Linked DNA regions of Homo sapiens. The protein of the gene in region 1 interacts with the protein of each later gene in a biochemical or structural test. Each region holds a gene or a part of one and is shown in the gene's direction. Other genes may lie near its edges.

Region 1 (7,739 bases):
AAGTGTACAGTTTGATGTGTTTTGGTCAATACTTGCACCTGTGTAGCCCCCACTCCAATCAAGCTGTCTTGGAACATTTCCATGCCTCCAGAAAGCCCCTCGGTGTCCCTTGACCACTGCATTTCTACCACATGCCTTTTACAAATTCAAACAATGCTGGAAGACAGCTATAGTTATTTCCATTTTGTGGATTTGGATGCCACAGCCCCATCAGGGTCAGTCACTCTCAAGCTGGAGTTGAGTCAGTGACGGGGCCAGTGAAGGACATGGGCAAGTGGTGGCTGGCCCAGAGACCATCACACCTAGTAGATTGAGAGCTATGATACATAAGCTGAGAAAGGCCAGCCTCACCTCCCTTCTTTAAAAAGTACAAAAAGCCCTGAAAATAGTCGCGAGGTAAAGTGTGGCTAAGGGTTTGGAGTTAGACCTGTGCATAAGGCCCCAGCCCTACCACTTAGTAGCTGTGTCCAGGGCCAAAAGCCTCACCTCCCTCACAGGGCTCCCTAGCTCTGAGTAAACACTCCAAACACTCAAATTATGATGATTTGAGAATGCTCCCGAAGTCTCAAACTATCTTCTCTTTGGAAACTGTTTCCAGCTCTAATGGCAGACGGCATGACTAAGAGATAAAGGCAGGAGCCATCCTGATCTAGAATGAGACTACAGATTAGGCAACAAAAGCTCTAAACCTTTTCAGAGCTCACCCTCTCCAAAGGTCAGTCAACCTAATAGTAGGCAAGGCCCTTGGGGGAAAAGTTTTGGCAGCATTCGTGTCCTTGAGCCCAAGTTACAGTGAACTTAGGACACGAGGCAGTGGACCAGAGACCCCCACCATAGCAAACCTCTCTAGGGAGGACTCTCCCCACTGTTGCTACTGGAATCCTGCTTTTTTTTTTTTTTTTGAGACTGAGTTTTGCTCTTATTGCCCAGGCTACAGTACAACGGCACGATCTCAGCTCACCGCAACGTCTGCCTCCCAGGTTCAAGCAATTCTCCTGCCTCACCCTCCCGAGTAGCTGGGATTACAGGCATGCACCACCACACCTGGCTAATTTTATATTGTTAGTAGAGATGGGGTTTCACCATGTTGGTCAGGCTGGTCTCAAACTCCTGACCTCAGGTGATCCTTCTGCCTCGGCATCCCAAAGTGCTCGGATTACAGGTGTGAGCCACCGCGACTGGCTAATTTTGTATTTTTAGTACAGACGGGATTTCTCCACATTGGTCAGGCTGGTCTCGAACTCCCGACCTCAAGTGATCCATCTGCCTCGGCCTCCCAAAGTGCTGAGATTACAGGCATGAACCACCGTGCCTGGCCAGGATCCTGCTTTTTGACTTGTTTCAAAGGTTTGATTTCATTACCAATGAAGCTGGGGAGGTGAAGCAGGAGACAGCAAAATTGGTTACATGAAACAGAGAGGCAATGAATACTTGAGATACTGGCTACGGATCTGATTCAATCAGAAGTTTATTCCAGTTAAATGGTCAGTCTCTCTTCTCTCCATCTCCCCTGAATATAATGTTGCTGATTCTAAACAGTGGCTCTCCAGTTGGTGACAATCGAAATCAGCTGGGAGCTCAAAACTCCTGACACCTAGGTCCTACCATGAAAATTCTGATGTAATTGGTCCGGGATGTGGACTAGGCAACAGAATTTTTAAAACTCCCTCAGGAGATTTTAAAGCCCACCAAGATTAGAGCCCACTATTCTAAAAAGCACTGTACCCCTTATTTAAGCTACCATTAACTCCACGGTCTTGGCCCAGTGAATTCCTGACCTGACACATTAAAAACAAACCAAAACACCATAAACCAAAGCCAGCCCCCACTTCACAGCTTCAGAGCCACAGGGAGGAAGCAACTGTATGCATGCATGAAAATACAAAAATCAGCTGAAGGGGGAAAATCATCGACTGAAAAGGAGGCTCAGGCAAGTACAGTAGGAAAAAACGCACCAAATCCCTGACCCCACGTTTTCTATATGCTTCTCTGTAGAAGTCTTGTGTGCCTGTGTGTGTGTTAAGGAAAACGGGATAGTCTCGGCAAACCTGGATTGCAATCCAGTTCCACCATTTCCTTCGTGAAATTCAAGCAATTTAACCCAAGTCTCAGTTTTCTAACTTGTAAAATGGAGTGTTAAAGCCATAATCTTCAAAACCCTCAGAGAATGAATGTTAAAGCATTTGGCACCTAGTCCTTTGTGTAGTTTCCTTTGGGCGTCTCAAACATTGGGATCAGTGGTTCCCAACCCTGGCTACTAGAATCACCTGCGTGTGCTTAAAAAACATGATGCCAGGCCAGGCACAGTGGCTCACACCCATTATCCCAGCACTTTGGGAGGCTGAGGCGGGAGGATTGCTTGAGCCCAGGAATTCGAGACCAGCCTGAGCAACATAAGACCTAATCTCCACAAAAAAATTAAAAAAAAAAATTAACCGGTCATGGTGGCACACACCTGTAGTCCCAGCTACTCGGGAGACTGCGGTGGGAGGACTGCTTGAGGCAGGGAAGGTGAGGCTTTAGTGAGCCAAGATAATACCAGTGCACTCTCCAGCCTGGGCGACAGAGCAAGACCCTGTCTCCAAAAAACAAAAACAAACTCACACACACCTGTGCTTGCCTGGGCTACACCCCAGATCAATTAATCAGTATCTCAGAGATGCGGAGGGGTGGCTGATCAGTCACTAGTGTTTAAAAAGCTCTTTGGGGGATTCGGATGTGGGACCAGGGCTTACTGCCACCTAGCTAAGGTATTTAACCAGCTTTATCTAAGAGTTGCCAGGGATGTGAGGCAAAGCATCACCTCAGGGGATTCCTACAGCAAAGAAGTTTAAGAAACACTGTATTGAGGCTTGTATAAAACCTTCCCAAACTGAGGGCATTTCTACAACTCAGAAAAGTCTGCTGTTACATTTCAACTAAACTAAGTCACATAATTGCAGCATTTTACATCCAAAATTTGCTTATAAGACAGCTACCGCCAATTGCAACTTCCATCAAATGACATTCTCTCCCTGTGTTTAATACACAAACTCTTGGTCTATTTCTCTCAATGTTCTAGTGAGAAAGATGTTTATCATCAACCCCACTTTTTTGGGGAGAAAACTAGGAATCACACCTATAAGAGCCCTCTGACTCCCAACTCCTTTGCCCCTTTCATTACACAGTCCAAATCAAGAAATCATTAGTCTAATCCCTTGCAGGGCTTGTTAAAACCGATAGATGGGCTCCACCCCAAGAATGTCTGATTCAGTAGTCTCTGACAGGGCTTGAAATTTCAGCCATTTTGAATAAGTTACCAGGTGTTGCTGCTGGTGGGACCAGAGTTTGAGAACCACTGGTTTATGCTGCCTTCTTCCCATCCGCTGGTCCTTATTTTGCACAAAATGGAGCGGACTAGTCAACGTCAGCTACAGGATAACTGACTTTTCTTCAGCAGCGTCACTGGGACTGATTTTCCCTTAAGACTGCACTTTCCAGGGACGTGACAAACAAGCAAGCAAGTAGAAAGAAGATCTGGGCCAATCTTTGGTCATCTCTACCCAGGGACAATGAGCTACTCAGGGAACAGACCCTTGAGGATCCCAAGCAGACAAACCCCACAGCTGAGAGACAGATCTTGAAACATCCTCCGCTCCTTAGGCGTGGTCACCTCTGGCCTCAATGGAAGTTACAGATAGGTACCCAGGCGCCAGCTGAGGCACTGAACTCCGTGGCGCAGGTATCCTAACCTCAGGCCCCTGGCATCTCTCCCCAGGATTCCAAGCACTGAACGCACATCAGCCTGCTGGGCTCTCTCGATTTCTTTCCCTCACTGGGCCGTGTGTTCAGACGCACCTGGGAGCCCCTTCCCCACTTCCTGGAAACTCAGCGACTCCAGCCACAACCTCCAAAACGCCAAACGCTCCGCCCCAAGGAATCCTACCTCACCTTCTCATAACCTGCCCATTCATTCTCCTTCATAATCCTCCAAATCCTCATTTTCCACCCCCAAATGTCCGTTTTCAATTGATATCTCTTTGTTCTCCTCGCAATCACCAACTCCCATCTCCAACCAGCACTCAGGACTCACTTGGAGACACCCCTTCCTCACGCACACACGTATCTACTCCGCAAGCCCAAATGTGCTTCCCGGATTCCTAACCGCCAGGGAGCCTCCCTACCACCACCCCCGCCCCTAATTCTCCACCCAAAGCCCTTCCCCCACCCCGGGCCTTTCCCCTAACCAATCCCCCAAATGCCTCTCCACTATCGTGACTGCCCCTCATCACACCCCCTCCTCTCGGTCCCTTCTTATACTCTGCTGCTGCCCAGCTCCCTCGGCCGCCCTCAACCCCTAGTCCATGGGCACCGCCCTCCCTACCATGAAAAGTCGGAGGACGCAGGAGTCTCCAAACCCGGACTGAGAGAGGCAGGAAACACCCAGCTCACGCCAGCCGGGGGCGGAGGCGGGGCCGGAGCGATAACTTCCGCTGTCCGCACCCCACTTCCGCCCCGCAGAGGGCAACGTCTTAAGCCGTCCGTTGTGCGCCTAGGGGCCAGTTTTCTTTCCAGCCTCCCCGGCCGGAGTGGGTTCCAGCTTTTCTCGGCTGGGGAGGGCATTTATCCCACCTCCGCTATTTCAGCTGCCAGAGGGGAGGCAAGGTGTGGGGAAGTTTTCCTTCCCGGGCGAAGAAGCTCTGCGGAACTGTCATTTTCCGGAACTGGATGCTTGCTTCCTGGCGGGGTTCTGAAAGCGAACACCGCGGGGCAAGATGGCGGTAGTGCGTCGGCTGCTGCCCCGGGTCTGGCAGAACTCGGGTGTTTTGGGCTGAGACAGTGGCAGCTGCGGCCCCGACCCCAAGTGCGGGGACCTCCGGCGAATAAAGGTCGGCCTGCGGGTAGGCCGGTAGGGCCTGCGGTCCGGCCTGCGGGAGAACTGGGTCGTCAGTCCTCCGAGTGGTGGGGCTGGGGACTTTGAGGGAGTTGGCTCTAGGGCACAGTCCCTGCCTGGCCAGGTCGGAGGAACAAGTGCTGGGATCTGGCGTGTGTGCTCCAGGGGCTCTTTCCGCGGCCCTTTCCACCTCTTTTCACTTTGGGGACGGTAGGCCTTTATAAACGGACTAATGCTGGGTGATTTGTTCCTGTGGTTGTTGATGCCGAGGAAAGACTCTGGGCCCCAGGACTCACCTAAACTGGAGTTCGAATACTGTTCGCTCGCTGTGTGACCTTGGGTGAGTTCCCTCACCTCTCTGAGCCTCAGTTTCCTTCTGTGTAAATGGAGTAATTAGCAGGTTTCACAGAGGGTGTGAATACGTTTTAGTACCGTGCCTGACACCTAGTTCTGAATAAAGAAAAACTTGATCGTAATTTAACTCCAGCTTAGCCCCCACAGGCAATCTTGCACTCTCAACTTCTCTTTGCTTGGCCATTCTGTGAACGGGGGAGCCCTGGATCTTGTTTGTTTTACTTAGTGATAAATAACTGTTTTGGATATACATGGATTCAGATTCAAAAGCATCCACCTTAGATAGGCTGTAGCTTTCAATAAATAGTAGCTGTTAATATGAATAGTCTCTTTAAGTCGTGTTTCCTATTCTTTAAATAAAAATTAGATTATTGAGGCTGGCCACGGTGGCTCACGCCTGTAATCCTAGCACTTTGGGAGGCCGAGGCGGGCGGATCACCTGAGGTCAGAAGTTCAAGACCAGCGTGGCCAACATGGTGAAACCGCATCTCTACTAAAAATACAAAAATTAGCCGGGCGTGGTGGCGGGCGCCTTTAATCCCAGCGACTTGGGAGGCTGAAGCAGGAGAATCACTTGAACCTGGGAGGCGGAGGTTGCAGTGAGCAGAGTTCGCGCCGCTGCACTCCAGCCTGGGCAACAAAGTGAGACTCCGTCTCAAAAAAACAAAGATTATCGAGAACTGATAGAGCTGTTGAAAAGACAAGTTGGTTAAATAATCTGTGCAGTGTCTGATACACCGTCTGCCCAGAACAAGTGGTGGTGGTCATTAAACCTGGTGGCCCAGCTTTTCCTACTGCACAGGGACAATCCTCTTGGCTTAGTCAGCAGTTGGTATTTATGATGCTTCAGCTTTGGAAATATAGAGGTAAGACAAGAGTCTGAATCCTGCCTCTTAGTTATTACAGCCTTGACTCTGCCACATACTAATGGTCTAGACTGGAGTAGATGAGATCATGAATGATCTTCTCATAGGACTCCTCTCCTTATTAGATGAGATCACTTATAAAGGACTTGACACATAATGGGCACTCATTTACTTTTTTAAATGATCTTGGTTATCACCAACCTCTTATTTTCTAATCTTTCTACCTATATGATTCTTGTTTCCCTAACTAGATTGCAAGCTTCTTAAGGACAATACAATAAAGCTCACTTACATGCTACATGCTTTTAGATATCCTATATTAATATTTTCCCATTTAATCCTAATCACAATGTTGTGATGACTAAATTGAGGTACAAGAAGGATAAATGTTGCATTTAATCCTTTCAGCAACCCTAGGACATAGACACTATTATTACCCTCGATTTACACATAAGGAAACTGAGGCCTAGAGAGGATAAGTAACTTGGCCAAATGTCGGATAGAAGGAGTACTAAAAAGAACCAAGGCCCGCTTTCTCTGATGCAAGACTTTTTCTGCTGCGCACAGCCTTTTCTTTGGTTCTCCATGGCATTTAGCAAAATAAGTACTTAATAAACACTTGATTGTGTGTTTTATTAATTGACGAACTATAGTATACACTGTGCAGGTGGAGAAGGTATATAGGAAAGGATGAGAAAAACTGTAAAGTGTAGGCTATTATATGATATGAACAGAAATCAACCAATAACATTGCTGAAGGGATAATAATCTCAAGGAAGGGGATAAGAGTAATTTCTTATTCTGGGAGGGCCCCTGGGAGAAGTGAAAGTTTTAAGATCGTCTTACAGTGCTTAGGTACAGTTTGCATGCAACTTTGTTTTTCTTTTGGGAAGAGGCTCCCTCTTCCCCTTCTAATTCCATGGACCCTCTGCCATTGAGGCACTGTCTGCATGTCATGGAGGGAGCATATCATTGTGCTTGTGGCTTGGGCCCTGCTCTTTTGCAGTCCTGAGGAGCTTGAATCTGTTACTCACTCTAAACAACAGGGCCAGGAGTTCATAGCCCAAGGGACAGGACTGGTGAATCTTAGTGCATTTAAGATAGGAAAAAAGTTAATGGGTGAGAAATGTCAGACTGCCAGCATTATTTCCTACCCAGAGAACCTTAGTAACTGTCCAGGTGGGAGCCTCTGCTGAAGAGTTTTTTTTTTTTTTTAATCCTTGTGTCTATAAAAATAATACACCAGTTAGACTTCCTGACTATACACTCTACAATGTGCACTCAAGTACCTCCATAGGTACCTGATAAGCATCATCACATTTAGTCCTCATTATCAACCTCTAAGCCAATTAATAGATGAAGATGGAAAGACTCAGGGCCCAGTGTGGTGGCTCATACCTGTAATCCTAACATTTTGGGAGGCCAAGGCAGGAGGATCTCTTGAGCCCAGGAGTTTGAGACCACCAACCTGGGCAATATAGCGAGACCCCACCTCTACAAAAAATTTAAAAACTAGCCAGATGTGGTGGTATGTACCTGTGGTCCCAGCTACTTGAGAAGCTGAGGTGGGAGAATCGCTTGAGCCTGGGAGGTAGAAGCTGCAATGAACCATGATTGCACCACTGCACTCCAGCTTGGATGACAGA
Region 2 (7,107 bases), on another chromosome or scaffold:
TGATGAGGTTGAACATATTTTTATGTTTGTTGGTCATTACTGTTTTCTGTAAACCTTATTCCTAATATGTTCTCATTGTTCTCTAGGGTTTTCTTTTCCTTGTTGATTTCTAGGAGGAATTATTTCTGTATTTTGAATAACGTTCTTGTCTTCTATATGTTATTCACATCCTTTTTCAGTCTGTGGCTTATCTTTTCATTTAATCTGCCTATAATTGATTTTTATGTATACTATGAGATCAGATTGGGTTCTAATTTTATTTTTTCATATTGGTAAAGTGTTCCAACACCATTAACTTTTCCTACTTTTTTTTTCCTTCTCTTTTGAGACAGGGTTTCACTCTGTGGCCCAGGCTGGAGTGCAGTGGTGTGATCACAGATCACTGCAGTCTTGACCTCCCTGGGCTCAGGTGATCCCCACCTTCTGAATAGCTGGGACCACAGGCATGTGCCAGCTACCACACCTGGCTAATTTTTGTATTTTTTGTAGAGATGGGGTCTTGCCATGTTGCCCAGGCTGGTTTCCAACTCCTGGGCTCAGTTGATTGGCCTACCTTTGCCTCCCAAAATGCTGGGTTTACAAGTGTGAGCCGCCACCATGCCCAGCCTTTTCTACTTTTTTTTTTTTTTTTCTTTTGAAATAACTTCAGATTTGCAGAAAAGTTAACATAAGTAGTACGAAGGATTCCCATATACCTTCATGCAGATCCATCAAATGTTGATGTTTAACATTTTTGCTTGCTCTTGTGTGTACTCTCTCTTCCCCCCTCCCTTCACATTCGATTTTGTTTTTTGGGGGAACCATTCAAGGGTAAGTTAACAGATACTGTCTCTTCACCCCTACATTCTTCAACTAGGACATTTTCTTACAATAGAATTATCAAAATCAGGAAATTAATGTTGATAGAGGACTATTATCTACCAGCCCTATTCAGATTTCACCACTACTGTTCTTTAAAGCAAAATAATGATAATAATATTTTTCCTGATACCAAGATTGCATTTGGTTGTCATGCCTCTATTCTCTTTACTGACTTTTAGTGTTGCCTCTACTAAGAAGCACATTTTCATATATGATATGTCTGCTTTGGGGCTTTTCTTTTTCATTAGTCTGTCCATTTCTGTACTGATTCCATATTTTCTTAATGATTTCTTTAGCTGATGAGGAAGTCTTAAAATCTAGGAAAGTGTCCCCTCTGTTTTTTCTTTTTTTGTTTTGTTTTTGTTTTTGAGACAGTCTCGCTCTGTCTCCCGGGCAGGGGCTTGATCTCGGCTCACTTCAGCCTCCACCTCCTGGGTTCAAGCGATTCTGCAGCAGCCTTCCAAGTAGCTGGTTGGGATTACAGGTGTGCACCAGCATGCCTGGCTTATTTTTGTATTTTTAGTAGAGATGGGGTTTCATCATGTTGGCCAGGCTGGGTTTTTTTTTTTTTTTTTTTTTTGTGTGTGTGTGTGTGTGAGACAGAGTCTCACTCTGTCACCCAGGCTGGAGTGCAGTGGTGCGATCTCGGCTCACTGCAAGCTCTGCCTCCTGGGTTCACACCATTCTCCTGCCTCAGCCTCCCGAGTAGCTGGGACTACAGGCGCCCGCCACCACGCCTGGCTAATTTTTTGTATTTTTACTAGAGACAGGGTTTCACCGTGTTAGCCAGGATGGTCTCGATCTCCTGACCTCGTGATCTGCCCACCTCGGCCTCCCAAAGTGCTGGGATTACAGGCGTGAGCCACTGTGCCCGGCCTTTTTTGTTGTTTTTTTTTTTTTTTTAAGACAGAGTCTCGCTCTGTCGTCTAGGCTGGAGTGCAGTGGTGCGATCTCGGCTCACTGCAGCCTCCGCCTCTGGAACATTAAATGTTCCAGACCAGTCTGGCCAACACGGTGAAACTCCATCTTTACTAAAAATACAAAAATTAGCCGGGCATGGTGTTGCACGCCTGTAATCCCAGCTATTTGAGAGGCTGAGGCAGGAGAATAGCTTGAACCTGGGAGGTGGAGGTTGGCTCGGCTACAGAGCGAGACTCTGTCTCACACACACAAAATAACACAGCAGGTGTATGAGGAACATTAAATGTCTTTCCTAACTTACTGTATGCAAATAAAAGTAGATACTTAAGAAATTGTCTAAAAATATTTAGTAAACCCATTTCTACACAGACAAATTAAAAGTTCTGAGAAATCAGGCTAAAATCACCTCAAATTTATAAGGTTTGATTAATAAATATTTACCTTTGCATATACACGAAAGCAAAAAAAGGTAGGAATACTTTCAATTTCAGATAACAATAAATTGAAATCAAGTACAAATTTTGACTCCCCTTCCTAAACTGAATAAACTCTTAAAAAGCAGACACACTTTACTTGTGTAAACACTCTTCTTTTTTTTTTTTTTAAATGGAATTTCTCTCTTGTTGCCCAGGCTGGTGTGCAATGGTGTGATCTTGGCTCACCGCAACCTCCACCTCCCGGGTTCAAGCGATTCTCCTGCCTCAGCCTCCCGAGTAGCTGGGATTCCAGGCATGTGCCACCATGCCCGGCTAATTTCGTATTTCTAATAGAGATGGGGTTCCTCCATGTTGGTCAGGCTGGTCACGAACTCCCAATCTCAGGTGATCTGCCTGCCTCGGCCTCCCAAAGTGCTGGGATTACAGGCCCAGCCGTATCCACTCTTTTAAATTTAGGCATCCATGTCACTGGAATTATGTTTTTCACAGGATCACTTTTAAATTCATTAAGAAGTTTCTTTATGTATATAAGCCTATTCATTTTACTTGAAAGGTTTTCTGTCTTCCCAAAGTCAAATCCTTACTAACTAAAATTAGGAATTTTGAAAAACCATCCATGAAAATCTCACAAACACATTAAAAAATGTATTATCTAAGGTGCATAAAATTAAACTCCATATTACCAATAGCATTTAAGAAACTCATATAAAATGATAATGTTTTCTTTAAAGAGACATACTGAAAGCCAAGTCAGTTGTTCACAGGAGGTGGTTTTGCACCATTATTTGAACTTTGATGTGTGAATTTGCTTTAGAAGTCCATGGTCTGTTTACTCTCTGACAGATTCTGTTTTCACATGCCCCTCACATGAAGGTTCACTCCTCATTCTTTTTTTTTTTTTTTTGAGACAGGTTGGGTGGGACTGCTTCAGGATTCTAAAAGACAGTACCTTCTGGTGCACTTTCTAAGATGGAACATAATTCTACTCTTTGAAAATCATTAGAGAGTATATATTAATGAACTTTGGCTTCTATGAACTTTCTGGGCATGCCTGTTTGATTGGTGCAGAGTCCTTGGCTGTAACAGAAACATCAAATAGGGAAAACGATTTCCTTATGGTTGATTGACTTACATCAGTATAAAATTGATGAGGAATTTATATACACGTTGTATACTGCTGTTAATGTTTGGTACAGTGCTTTCTTTAGTGTTTTCATTTTGAGGGGTTATTAGATTCAGCATTTTCTGGAGCAGAATGCTTTTTAAAGGGGATTTGGTCTTTTTGGGAAATAATTTATAAAGGTTAATTTGGAAAAAGCTGAATTTAAATACGTGTAGCTCTTATAATTATGAGCTTTTTACATTTACACTGACGTTCTTTTGTATAGGAGTTAAAGTTCCTCGTAATTTTCGCTTGTTGGAAGAACTTGAAGAAGGACAAAAAGGAGTAGGCGACGGTACAGTTAGCTGGGGCCTTGAAGATGATGAAGATATGACACTTACAAGGTGGACAGGCATGATTATTGGGCCACCAAGGGTCAGTGTTATAAATTATATTTTTTCTATTAATACTTATTGTTAAAGTTAGCATTTAATTTTATACTATTGATATTAAAATAAGCAATTATGATAACTTCTAAAATAGTTCCTTTTTATTTTGTTTACATTTATTGATGCTTCCCACGTGCAGGATATAATGCTCGATTACGTAGAGGATTGGGGGGAGGAAGGTTGATATGGTCATTGCCATCAAAGTTTTGCAGTTTAGTAAGGGAGAAAAAATCAGTACAAATGACAGATTCTAAATATGACAGAGCAAGTTCACTACGGGACTTTAGAATATGTTTCTTCTAGCTGGAATAATTGAGGAAGGCTGAACAGTGGAGGAAGTTGCCTTTGGAATGATCCCTAAAGGACTGACTGGTAGGATTTCAGAAGGTGGTGATGGGGATGGAGAACATTCCAGATAGAGAGGAGAAAAGGTGAGGAAATGGAGGGGGTATGTGGGGAGAGCAGTCATTTTGACGTAACATGTTACCTCTTGTGTGAACCTGAGGGTTTCTAAATTGGTTTGCATTGAGTGCATGTTGCTATTTGCCCTCTGACACTTCACATGCCATAGAAATGCTGTAGGTCTCAGCTTCTTCATCTATAAAAAGTCTATGATTCTTACATTTTTTTCTAGTATGGTTGGCAACTGGCCCATTGTACTTTGTCTTTCTTGGGTTTATGAAGTTTTATTTTTACTCAAAGTCTTTTAGTCTTTTTTTCTAGCTTGGGATTTTTTTTTTTTTTTACATTGCATTCCTTACTTAATGGTCCCATCCACTGCACTCCCTGCAGTGAATCTTTGAAATTTGTCTCTCTAATGTTTTTGGCTTGTTGGAAAGAGCACACATTTGAAGGGTTTTTTAAGTCTTTGGTTTTGTATACTGGTTGCTACCTTATGATGAGAGCATTTTAACTGTTTTGCTCTTGGGTAGAGTTTAGAGTTCCTCCTGATGATGATGATGATGATGATGATGATGATTATTGAGACAACATCTTGTTCAGCCACCCAGGCTGGAGTGCAGTGGTGTGATCTCAGCATACTGCAATCTCAGCCTCCTGGGCTCAAGCGATCCTTCCACCTCAGCCTCCTGAGGTGGTGTGCACCACCACTGCTGGCTAATATTTGTAGTTTTTGTAGAGATGGGGTTTCACCATGTCGGCCAGGCTGGTCTCGAACTCCTGGCCTCAAGTGATCCACCTGCCTTGGCCTCCCAAAATGCTGGGATTACAGGTGTGAGCCACTGCACCCAGCCCCTCCTGATTATTACAAAAGAAAAATGTATCAGGTAATTAGCAACATTAATTATAGAGAATGAATTAGTGTGTGTTTTATGTTGTTTTCTGGTGTTCCTTTGCAAAATTCATGCACACTCCTACACTGATAGGCTCCCTGTTTACTCCCTTGCTCTATTTTTTCCTGAAGACATTTTAGGAAGGAAATATAATGTTGATATGTTGATGGATAGAGTTCCATATGACTTGGTATATATAATGGAAGCCTTGATTTTCACTGCCTGTGAACATCATTACTGTGGTCTGTTTGGTTTAAAAAAAGCGCTTATAATTGATGAACATTCTGACTTACTGATTTGAAGATTTAACAGTCAGAACTTGGTAGAATATAAATTTGAAATTATTTAGATTTCGTTTTTCTCTAGCCACTGCCTGCAGCAGACTTTAAGAATGTTTTGGAACTTGTGATGAGTTCATCAGTGGTCTTGTGGGCTGACCCACAGCACAGTTCCTAGCTGTCGTGGACCGGTTCCTGCTTGGTCTTTCACCCGGTTGGGGTCCCCTGCAGGATGCCCCAACTAGTTGCCATTCCTGGTGTCACCGAACCTCAGGAAACTCTATCCACTGGGATGGGGGTGAAGGCTGCTTCTCTGCAACTCTCTCCCCTCTCAGGGCACACAGACAAAATGCTACTGTGGTCCTCCATTCCCTGTGGGTGGTGGTTTTGGAGCTGCAGGAGAGAAAAGGTCATAATAGCCTTTCCTCACTTGTCTCAAGCTTCACGCTGAGGCACTTATAATAAAAAGCAGAGAAAAGCATACAAATTTATTTAAGTTTTACATGACATGGGAACATTCAGAAAGGAAGACCCAAAGAAACAGGGAAACCGTGTATTTTTATGCTAAATTTGATGAAGAGTGGACAGTGATGCAACAGCGTGATTGGATCTGATGGTAACACACTAGGTAATAAACTGGGGGAACTTACCAGGGCCTGTTTGTTCACATTATTCCTGTGTCTTTGGATTTCATTCCTTTCTTGGCATAAGACAAGACCCCTTTGGAGTGGTTCTCATGACCTACCTACTTCGTGGGGAGGTCAGCTAGATTTTAGGGTCTGCTTCAGGGGAGAAGGGGGCGAAGGTAAGGTAAGAGTAACCTTGCTTCTGCTGTTTTCTTAAGTGCCAAGGTGCCGTATTTTGGGATAGTATGTCCTGAACCTCATCAGAGACCCCCTCACTTCCTTTGAGTGCCAGGCAGAGGTAGGAGGGTGTGCCCTGCAAAGGCACAGGCTTCTTCTGGAACTGGCCTCTGCTCACCACCTGATGATCTTCTCTGCATCACCTTCTCAGTTCTCTTGAAGGCAGGTCACAGCAGGCATATTCAGTTGCCTTTTCATAAAACAGGCAGGAGTTGGTATCTTACCACAGTTGTTTTCTCCTTAGAAGGTGCAATGTTGAGAACAATTTTGTCCCCAGGGTAGAGTATCTACATCTAGCCAGGAGAGGAGGAAGACTTTTTTGTTTGTTTGTTTTTGAGACAGAGTTTGGCTCTTGTTGCCCAGGCTAAAGTGCAATGGTGTAATCTCAGATCACCGCAACCTCCGCCTCCCAGGTTCAAGCGGTTTTCCTGCCTCAGCCTCCCTAGTAGCTGGGATTACAGGCATGTGCCACCACTCCCAGCTAATTTTGTATTTTTATTTTTTTTTTTGAGACGGAGTCTTGCTCAGTCGCTCAGGCTGGAGTGCAGTGGCGCCATCTCGGCTCACTGCAAGCTCTGCCTCCCGCGTTCATACCATTCTCCTGCCTTAGCCTCCCGAGTAGTGGGACTACAGGGGCCTGTCACCACGCCCTGCTGATTTTTTGTATTTTTAGTAGAGATGGGGTTTCACCATGTTAGCCGGGATGGTCTCGATCTCCTGACCTTGTGATCCACCCGCCTCGGCCTCCCAAAGTGCTGGGATTACAGGCGTGAGCCACCGCGTCTGGCCTAATTTTGTATTTTTAGTGGGGACAGGGTTTCTCCATGTTGCTCAGGCTGGTCTCAGACTCCCGACCTCAGATGATCCGCCCACCTCGGCCTTCGCAAAGTGCTAGGATTACAGG
Region 3 (7,107 bases), on another chromosome or scaffold:
CATTTCGTTATTACATCTGTGTTAGCTTAGATTCCCTTTGAACATTTTCAGTCCACTGACGCCTGTTTAAGCAATGTCTTATATTAAATTCTGTTATAAAACCTAGTGTGGAGTCTTTTTTCCTGATTTATCCCTAACTGCCATATCCCCACTCTTCTCCCCAACAGTTACTGTGATCTGCATTCTAACATAGCATGTACCCACATTGTACATTAAACGTAATTTGTATATAACTATGTAAGATTGGAACTGAATAGCAGGTGACTGGTTGACCTAATGTTTCCTTTTTGTATGTTTAGATTTTGTAATTTTCCTTGCATATTTTTGTAATTAATACCTTTTTCCTTTTCTCATATCTCATACTTTTTTTTTTTTTTTTGAGATAGGGTCTCATTCTGTCACCCAGGCTGAAGTTCAGTGACACAATCACAGCTCACTGTAGCCTTGACCTCCTGGGATCAAGTAATCCTCCTGCCTCAGCCTCCGAAGTAGCCAAGACCACAGGCGCACCACCACACCTGGCTAATTTTTTTTTACTTTTTGTAGAGACAGGGTCTCACTTTGTTGCCCAGGCTGGTCTTGAACTCCTGGGCTCACGCAGTCCTCCTGTCTTGGCCTCCCAAAGTGCTGAGATTACAGGCGTGGGCCACCGTGCCTAGCCTAGCTCATACATTTTTAAAACAAATTTTATTTTCTAATACTTACAGGCTTATAGAAAAGTTGCAAAGGTAGTACTTCCTGTGCTACCTTTTCCCTGTTGCTAGCATCTTATGTTATTATGGTACATTTGTCACAACCAATAAACCAACGTTGATACATTATTATTAGCTAAAGTCCATACTTTATTCAGGTGTTCTTAGTTTTTACTTATATCTGTTTTTTGTTCCAGAATCCCATCCAAGATACCACATTACACTTAGTCATCATATCTCTGGCTCCTCGTGGCAATGACATTTCTCAGGTTTTTCTTGTTTTTGATGCCCTTGGCTGTTTTGAGGAGTACTGGTCAGGTATTTTGTAGACTGTCTCTCTATTGGAATTTGTCTTTTTTTTTTTTTTTTTTTAATGATTAGACTGGGGTTATCTCATATGTATGCATTTGGCCCAGGAAAAATTTATAATCTCCAGGCTCTGGGCCTGTAGTGCCTAATGGACAAAGTAGCCTGTGTGCACACAAATATATCCAGAATTGGAAGAAAGTGTATGTCTGCTTTTATAGGCTATACATATCCTACAATGTATCGTCTATACCTGGTGCCATGTTTTGCCAGTCTTTCGTATGTGTGTGTGTGCCCAAGGAGTGTCCCTCGGCCTTTGAGAAGGCTACGAAGTCTCCGGGTTATATGAATATGCCATGTTCATATAGTCCCTTGCAAGGAGACATGTAGATTGTAGTTATTTTTGCTATTGCAGACAGTGCTTCACATTTTGTGCACAAGTTTGCGTCTCTCTGAAGGAAATTGCTAGGAAGGGGCCTGCTGGTCTGAGCATGCCCATTTCACATGTTGATGAGCACTGCCAAACGGCTCCACAAAGCATGAGCCATATCAACAAAGTGGAAAGTGTTTGTTTCATGATCAAATAATGAATCTTAAGAGCAGTATTTCTCACAGACGCAGAATGTTCCAGCAATTCTCCTTCAGGCACATTTCCTTTGCTGAAACCTTTTTAGCAGGTCCCTGGAGCACTCATGAACAAAATAAAAAAACCAGAAACCCTGTAACCCTGGTTTCTATTAAAGTCTAGCTTGGGGCTTTTTTTTTTTTTTTTTGACAAAGTGTCGCAATGTCACCCAGGCTGGAGTGGAGTGGTGCAGTCTCGGCTCACTGCAACTTCCACCTCCCAGGTTTAAGCAGTTCACCTGTCTCAGCCCCCCGGTTAGCTGGGACTACAGGCACCTGCCAATATGCCTGGCTAATTTTTGTATTTTTAGTAGAGACAGGGTTTCATCATGTTGGCCAGATGGGTCTCGAACTCCTGACCTCAGGTTATCCACCCACCTCGGCCCCCCCAGATGCCGAGATTACAGGCGTCATCCACCGCACCCAGCCTTAGCTTGGGGTTTTTTGTTTTTTGTTTTTTGTTTTTGAGATGGAGTCTCGCACTGTCGCCCAGGCTGGAGTGCAGTGGCGCAATCTCGGCTCACTGCAAGCTCCACCTCCCGGGTTCGTGCCATTCTCCTGCCTCAGCCTCACAAGTAGCTGGGACTATAGGCGCCCACAACCACACCCGGCTAATGTTTTGTATTTTTAGTAGAGACAGGGTTTCACCGTGTTAGCCAGGATGGTCTCGATCTACTGACCTTGTGATCCGCCTGTCTCGGCTTCCCGAAGTGCTGGGATTACAGGCGTGAGCCAGCTCACCCGGCCTTAGGTTGGGGCTTTTAAATGACCCTTCAGGTGTGTGTCTGTGATGACTTGAGGCTTTTTTTTTTACTGTCTTCCAGTGAAATTACCAGATGAATATCAGTGGTGAGAAATTTGATTCCTTAAAATGTAAGGAATTTCATTCTTGAATTGTGTGACAAAACCAGGGAGCATGATTTTTGCTCCATTCAGGATCTATTCAGTCAACACTGAGTATATAGTTGTTGATGGAGACTATGATAGGTTCTGAGGATGGATCTGTTATATTCTCCATAAATCTGTATGTGAGTCATGCCTTTGTTTGCTTCCTACTTGTTCTGTTTACTGGGTTTTTTTTTTCTTTGAGGAAACACCTTAATTGCAATGAGGTGTTTATTTTATAATATAAAAGTGTGAAGAGAAACATTCAACAAACATTTGAGTACCAATTCAGTTGAGGGCCCCTGTCAAGGCCCCCACCCTCCTTTTTCTGTGTTTAGTGAGGGTGTCTGATGCATAACTGAGCCTCAGTTGGGAGGGGCTGAGGGGATCGGGAACACTTCCAAGGGGAAGCAGCTGGGGTGAGAGCCCCAAGGTGGAGAGAACTTGGCAAGGTTGAAGAGGAATGGTGGGCAGGGGAGGGAGAAGAGTAAAAGAAGAGGCAGTTAGGGCTGCCCGGGTCAGTCTGGGAACTTTGGCTTCCTCTTCAGGTCACTAGGAGCCATCAGAGGGTTAAGCCAGCAGAGACAGCTTCCTGTTTTTAAGACGTTGGTCTGGCTGCTGTGCCGGGAGCAAGAGAGAAAGAGACTTGGGGGAGTTCAGAAGAGGTGACGGTGGTGGAGGAAAGTGGATGGATATGGGGTCTCTTTCAGAGGTAGAACAGTGGGGTCTCTTTCAGAGGTAGAACAGTGGGACCTTCTGACCACTGGCAGGTAGAGGGTAAGGGAGAGGGGAATTGGGTTGCCTGCTAGTTTTTGCTTTAGCTAACTGGGTAGATGCTGATGTCATTCACTGAGGAGGAAGAGGGCAGGTTGAGGGTAGGTAGAAATTCACAGTTTTGGTTTGGTTGTAGTTTGGGATCCCTGTGGACAAGAAAAGTTTCCATGGGTATATTATGAATGCCTTCTGAATCAAGGGTTTAAATCACATCCTCTGATTTATTCTCCCCAAAGACCACTAGATGCCGCTGTTTACACGGGAGCAATTATGCAGTACAAGACTCCTTTCCTGAGGAGAGGGCACGGATGCCGGAGAGGGTACTGATGCCGGAGAAGGCACTGATGCCTGACAGGGGAACCCACAGAGAGGGGAGCCCCTGCCTTTGAGGGGGTTACTCTTTACTGGGAGACATCACCCTTCAGTGTGGTCTTCAGACACATGTGATAGCAGTGTGACTTCATATGGGATAGAAAGCTAGGGACTAGGTAGTGTTTGAGCTGGGTCTTCAGGGTTGCAAGGCATTTCAGGTGGGGGCAGGACGCTCCAAGCAGAAGGAACAGCCGGGCAACAGAGCGCATCTCCCTGCTTATGGGGTAGATGGTACAGTGAAGAGGTTATTGGCATAGGGGGTTGGACTTTTCAGTGTTTCTCAACAAAGGCACAGTTAGCCTTTTAAAGAAGGACGGTTTTTGGCTGGGTACGGTGGCTCATGCCTGTAATCCCAGCACTTTGGGAGGCCGAAGAGGGCAGATCAGCTGAGGTCAGGAGTTCGAGACCAGCCTGACCAACATGGAGAAACCCTGTCTCTACTAAAAATACAAAATTACCCGGCCATGGTGGCACATGCCTGTAATCCCAGCTACTCAGGAGACAGGAGAGTCACTTGAACCCGGGAGGCGGAGGTTGCGGTGAGCCGAGATCGCACCATTGCACTCCAGCCTGGGCAACAAGAGCAAAACTCTGTCTCAAAAAAAAAAAAAAAAAAAAAAGACTGCTTTTCCCTGTGCTGCCTCACCCATTGAATGCCAGTAATCTCTCAGGTCAGACTACCAAAAAAAAAAAAAAAGACTGCAGGGAGGGATGGAACACCCCAGTTGAAATCCCTTACCCAGTGCCTAACCCCGGAGTGATGGAGAAGGGGGAAGCAGCTCTGAGTCTGCACCCCTCCCTCGTCTTGTCTTAATTTTGAGGTTCTCTAAAGCAGTGACCTGTTCTGTGCTTTAATACCACATAGTGTTATTTAACTGATTGGCTGATGATCCTGGTGAGTGGACATTTAACTCGGCTTCCTAGAATAGAGAATGCCTCTTACCATTCCCCAGAGAAGGACTGCAAAGTAGAGAAATTAACATAAAAACAGGTCCCTCTGATTAGACTTAATACTAAAAACTTCACTGGTACTAGCTTAAATGCTCCATCTTCTTTGTATTCCCCCAAGGCCCGGAAGTCATATAAACTAGTGTAGGAACTAGTATAGAACTGCTGACCTACCACAGAACAAGTAGACTCCATGCTGGAAGCAGATGTACCAGTTCTACAGTCAGGGATAAATGGGGTTTCACAAGCTCTACCTTTTTGAATGCTTTGTTTGTAATTGCGTGACATCTCCGTACTCTTTTTTTCCAGACAATTTATGAAAACCGAATATACAGCCTTAAAATAGAATGTGGACCTAAATACCCAGAAGCACCCCCCTTTGTAAGATTTGTAACAAAAATTAATATGAATGGAGTAAATAGTTCTAATGGAGTGGTAAGTTGTTTTCTCTGTCCCACTTGTTCCTTGGAGTTGACAGTTGCTTTGTACTTAACATCAGGAGCTTTTAGACTGGGCCCAATTCCTAGGTTCTTTGGTTATTTGTTGATAAACTGTATCACTGTGCATAGGAGCACAGATTTGGGATGGGGCCTGTTTCCCAATTATATCTGGCGATCACTCATATAGCACTTACCCTGGGCTAGTTCTGTGCTGGTCGCTTTGAAATATGAGCTCTTTCCTCATGCCACCCCAGTGAGGTAGAGATGAGGAAACTGAGGCACAGACGTGGAAGATCTTTCCCAGGGCTACACCTTTACCCCCCTGGGCCTTATTTGTGAACCACTGGCATGTAATATTTTTTTCCTTTAATGGCCTTGCTTTTTTATTTTTACTACCATAAATGAAAAACCTGTCTCAGTTGTCATAACTGGGCAATAATGGCAACAGTAAATATTACAAAAACAGAGCAATGTTAATAAATCTTGACTCCATGTGTCATTTGCCAAAAGCTTTGAGCCTTTGAGGCCTGCTCTCCTGTTCAAAGAGGAGATCAGCAAGTGTTGAAGGGATGCTACACATGTTAACGTCACGCCAAGCCTTCGTCTTTGAGATACTCAGAAGACTGGAAAATTGAAAAGAGATGAGCTTTGTTACAGTGTGTTTAGTGTTTAATCCTGAATCTGAGTTCCACCTAAAGTCCTGAGCCCAGAGCTCAACCTGTGCTTTGGGGAATTTATTTTGGGAAATGCTGCCTTAACCTGAGAGGTGCTGGCTCTGTGGCAGGCCCTTGTCACTGGAGCAGGTGTCCTGGCCACCCTTTGCCTTGGCTGTCCGTACTGCCCTGCATGCACATCTGTCCCCCTGACCTGGGCGCAGTGAAGAGGACAGGTCCTGAGCCCGGCAGCCGCCAGCCCAGCAGCGGCCATTATTGAAGAGCCAAGTAGGGCTGGGTTGAGTCTCACCCAAGTGTCAGTACCACCGTTTCCTTATCCCAGATAGTAATGGTTCAGGGCACAAAAGGGAAAGGCAGGCTGACTGGAGGGAGGGACTCTAGCAGGTAGGTATTCCGCATGTAAGGTATTAGGATTAGCAGCAGGTTCAGCTTAAAAAGTACATCTTACTCCAGTTTGCACCTTAGCTTAACCCCGGCATATAGCTATTTTGTTTGAGAGTCTGAGAGTAATTTGCTTTTGTTTGCCTTGTTGTAGGTGGACCCAAGAGCCATATCAGTGCTAGCAAAATGGCAGAATTCATATAGCATCAAAGTTGTCCTGCAAGAGCTTCGGCGCCTAATGATGTCTAAAGAAAATATGAAACTCCCTCAGCCGCCCGAAGGACAGTGTTACAGCAATTAATCAAAAAGAAAAACCACAGGCCCTTCCCCTTCCCCCCAATTCGATTTAATCAGTCTTCATTTTCCACAGTAGTAAATTTTCTAGATACGTCTTGTAGACCTCAAAGTACCGGAAAGGAAGCTCCCATTCAAAGGAAATTTATCTTAAGATACTGTAAATGATACTAATTTTTTGTCCATTTGAAATATATAAGTTGTGCTATAACAAATCATCCTGTCAAGTGTAACCACTGTCCACGTAGTTGAACTTCTGGGATCAAGAAAGTCTATTTAAATTGATTCCCATCATAACTGGTGGGGCACATCTAACTCAACTGTGAAAAGACACATCACACAATCACCTTGCTGCTGATTACACGGCCTGGGGTCTCTGCCTTCTCCCCTTACCCTCCCGCCTCCCACCCTCCCTGCAACAACAGCCCTCTAGCCTGGGGGGCTTGTTAGAGTAGATGTGAAGGTTTCAGGTCGCAGCCTGTGGGACTACTGCTAGGTGTGTGGGGTGTTTCGCCTGCACCCCTGGTTTCTTTAAGTCTTAAGTGATGCCCCTTCCAAACCATCATCCTGTCCCCACGCTCCTCCACTCCCGCCCTTGGCCGAAGCATAGATTGTAACCCCTCCACTCCCCTCTGAGATTGGCCTTCGGTGAGGAATTCAGGGCTTTCCCCATATCTTCTCTCCCCCACCTTTATCGAGGGGTGCTGCTTTTTCTCC

What was found.
Region 2: the proteins of UBE3B (region 1) and UBE2V2 form a complex in vitro, tested with the Homo sapiens proteins (one study listed by BioGRID).
Region 3: the proteins of UBE3B (region 1) and UBE2V1 form a complex in vitro, tested with the Homo sapiens proteins (one study listed by BioGRID).

Annotation. Positions count from the first base shown.
Region 1 is NC_000012.12:109,472,897-109,480,635, forward strand, and holds the start of UBE3B (ubiquitin-protein ligase E3B), read left to right. Parts: upstream 1-4,737; 5' UTR 4,738-5,213; intron 5,214-7,739. Other genes in the region: KCTD10 (BTB/POZ domain-containing adapter for CUL3-mediated RhoA degradation protein 3), read right to left, coding at 4,364-4,366. UniProt on the Homo sapiens protein: E3 ubiquitin-protein ligase which accepts ubiquitin from an E2 ubiquitin-conjugating enzyme in the form of a thioester and then directly transfers the ubiquitin to targeted substrates.
Region 2 is NC_000008.11:48,039,426-48,046,532, forward strand, and holds part of UBE2V2 (ubiquitin-conjugating enzyme E2 variant 2), read left to right. Parts: intron 1-3,607; coding exon 3,608-3,756; intron 3,757-7,107. UniProt on the Homo sapiens protein: Has no ubiquitin ligase activity on its own. The UBE2V2/UBE2N heterodimer catalyzes the synthesis of non-canonical poly-ubiquitin chains that are linked through 'Lys-63'. This type of poly-ubiquitination does not lead to protein degradation by the proteasome.
Region 3 is NC_000020.11:50,082,058-50,089,164, reverse strand, and holds part of UBE2V1 (ubiquitin-conjugating enzyme E2 variant 1), read left to right. Parts: intron 1-4,910; coding exon 4,911-5,036; intron 5,037-6,250; coding exon 6,251-6,397; 3' UTR 6,398-7,107. Other genes in the region: PEDS1-UBE2V1 (TMEM189-UBE2V1 fusion protein), read left to right, coding at 4,911-5,036, 6,251-6,397. UniProt on the Homo sapiens protein: Has no ubiquitin ligase activity on its own. The UBE2V1-UBE2N heterodimer catalyzes the synthesis of non-canonical poly-ubiquitin chains that are linked through Lys-63.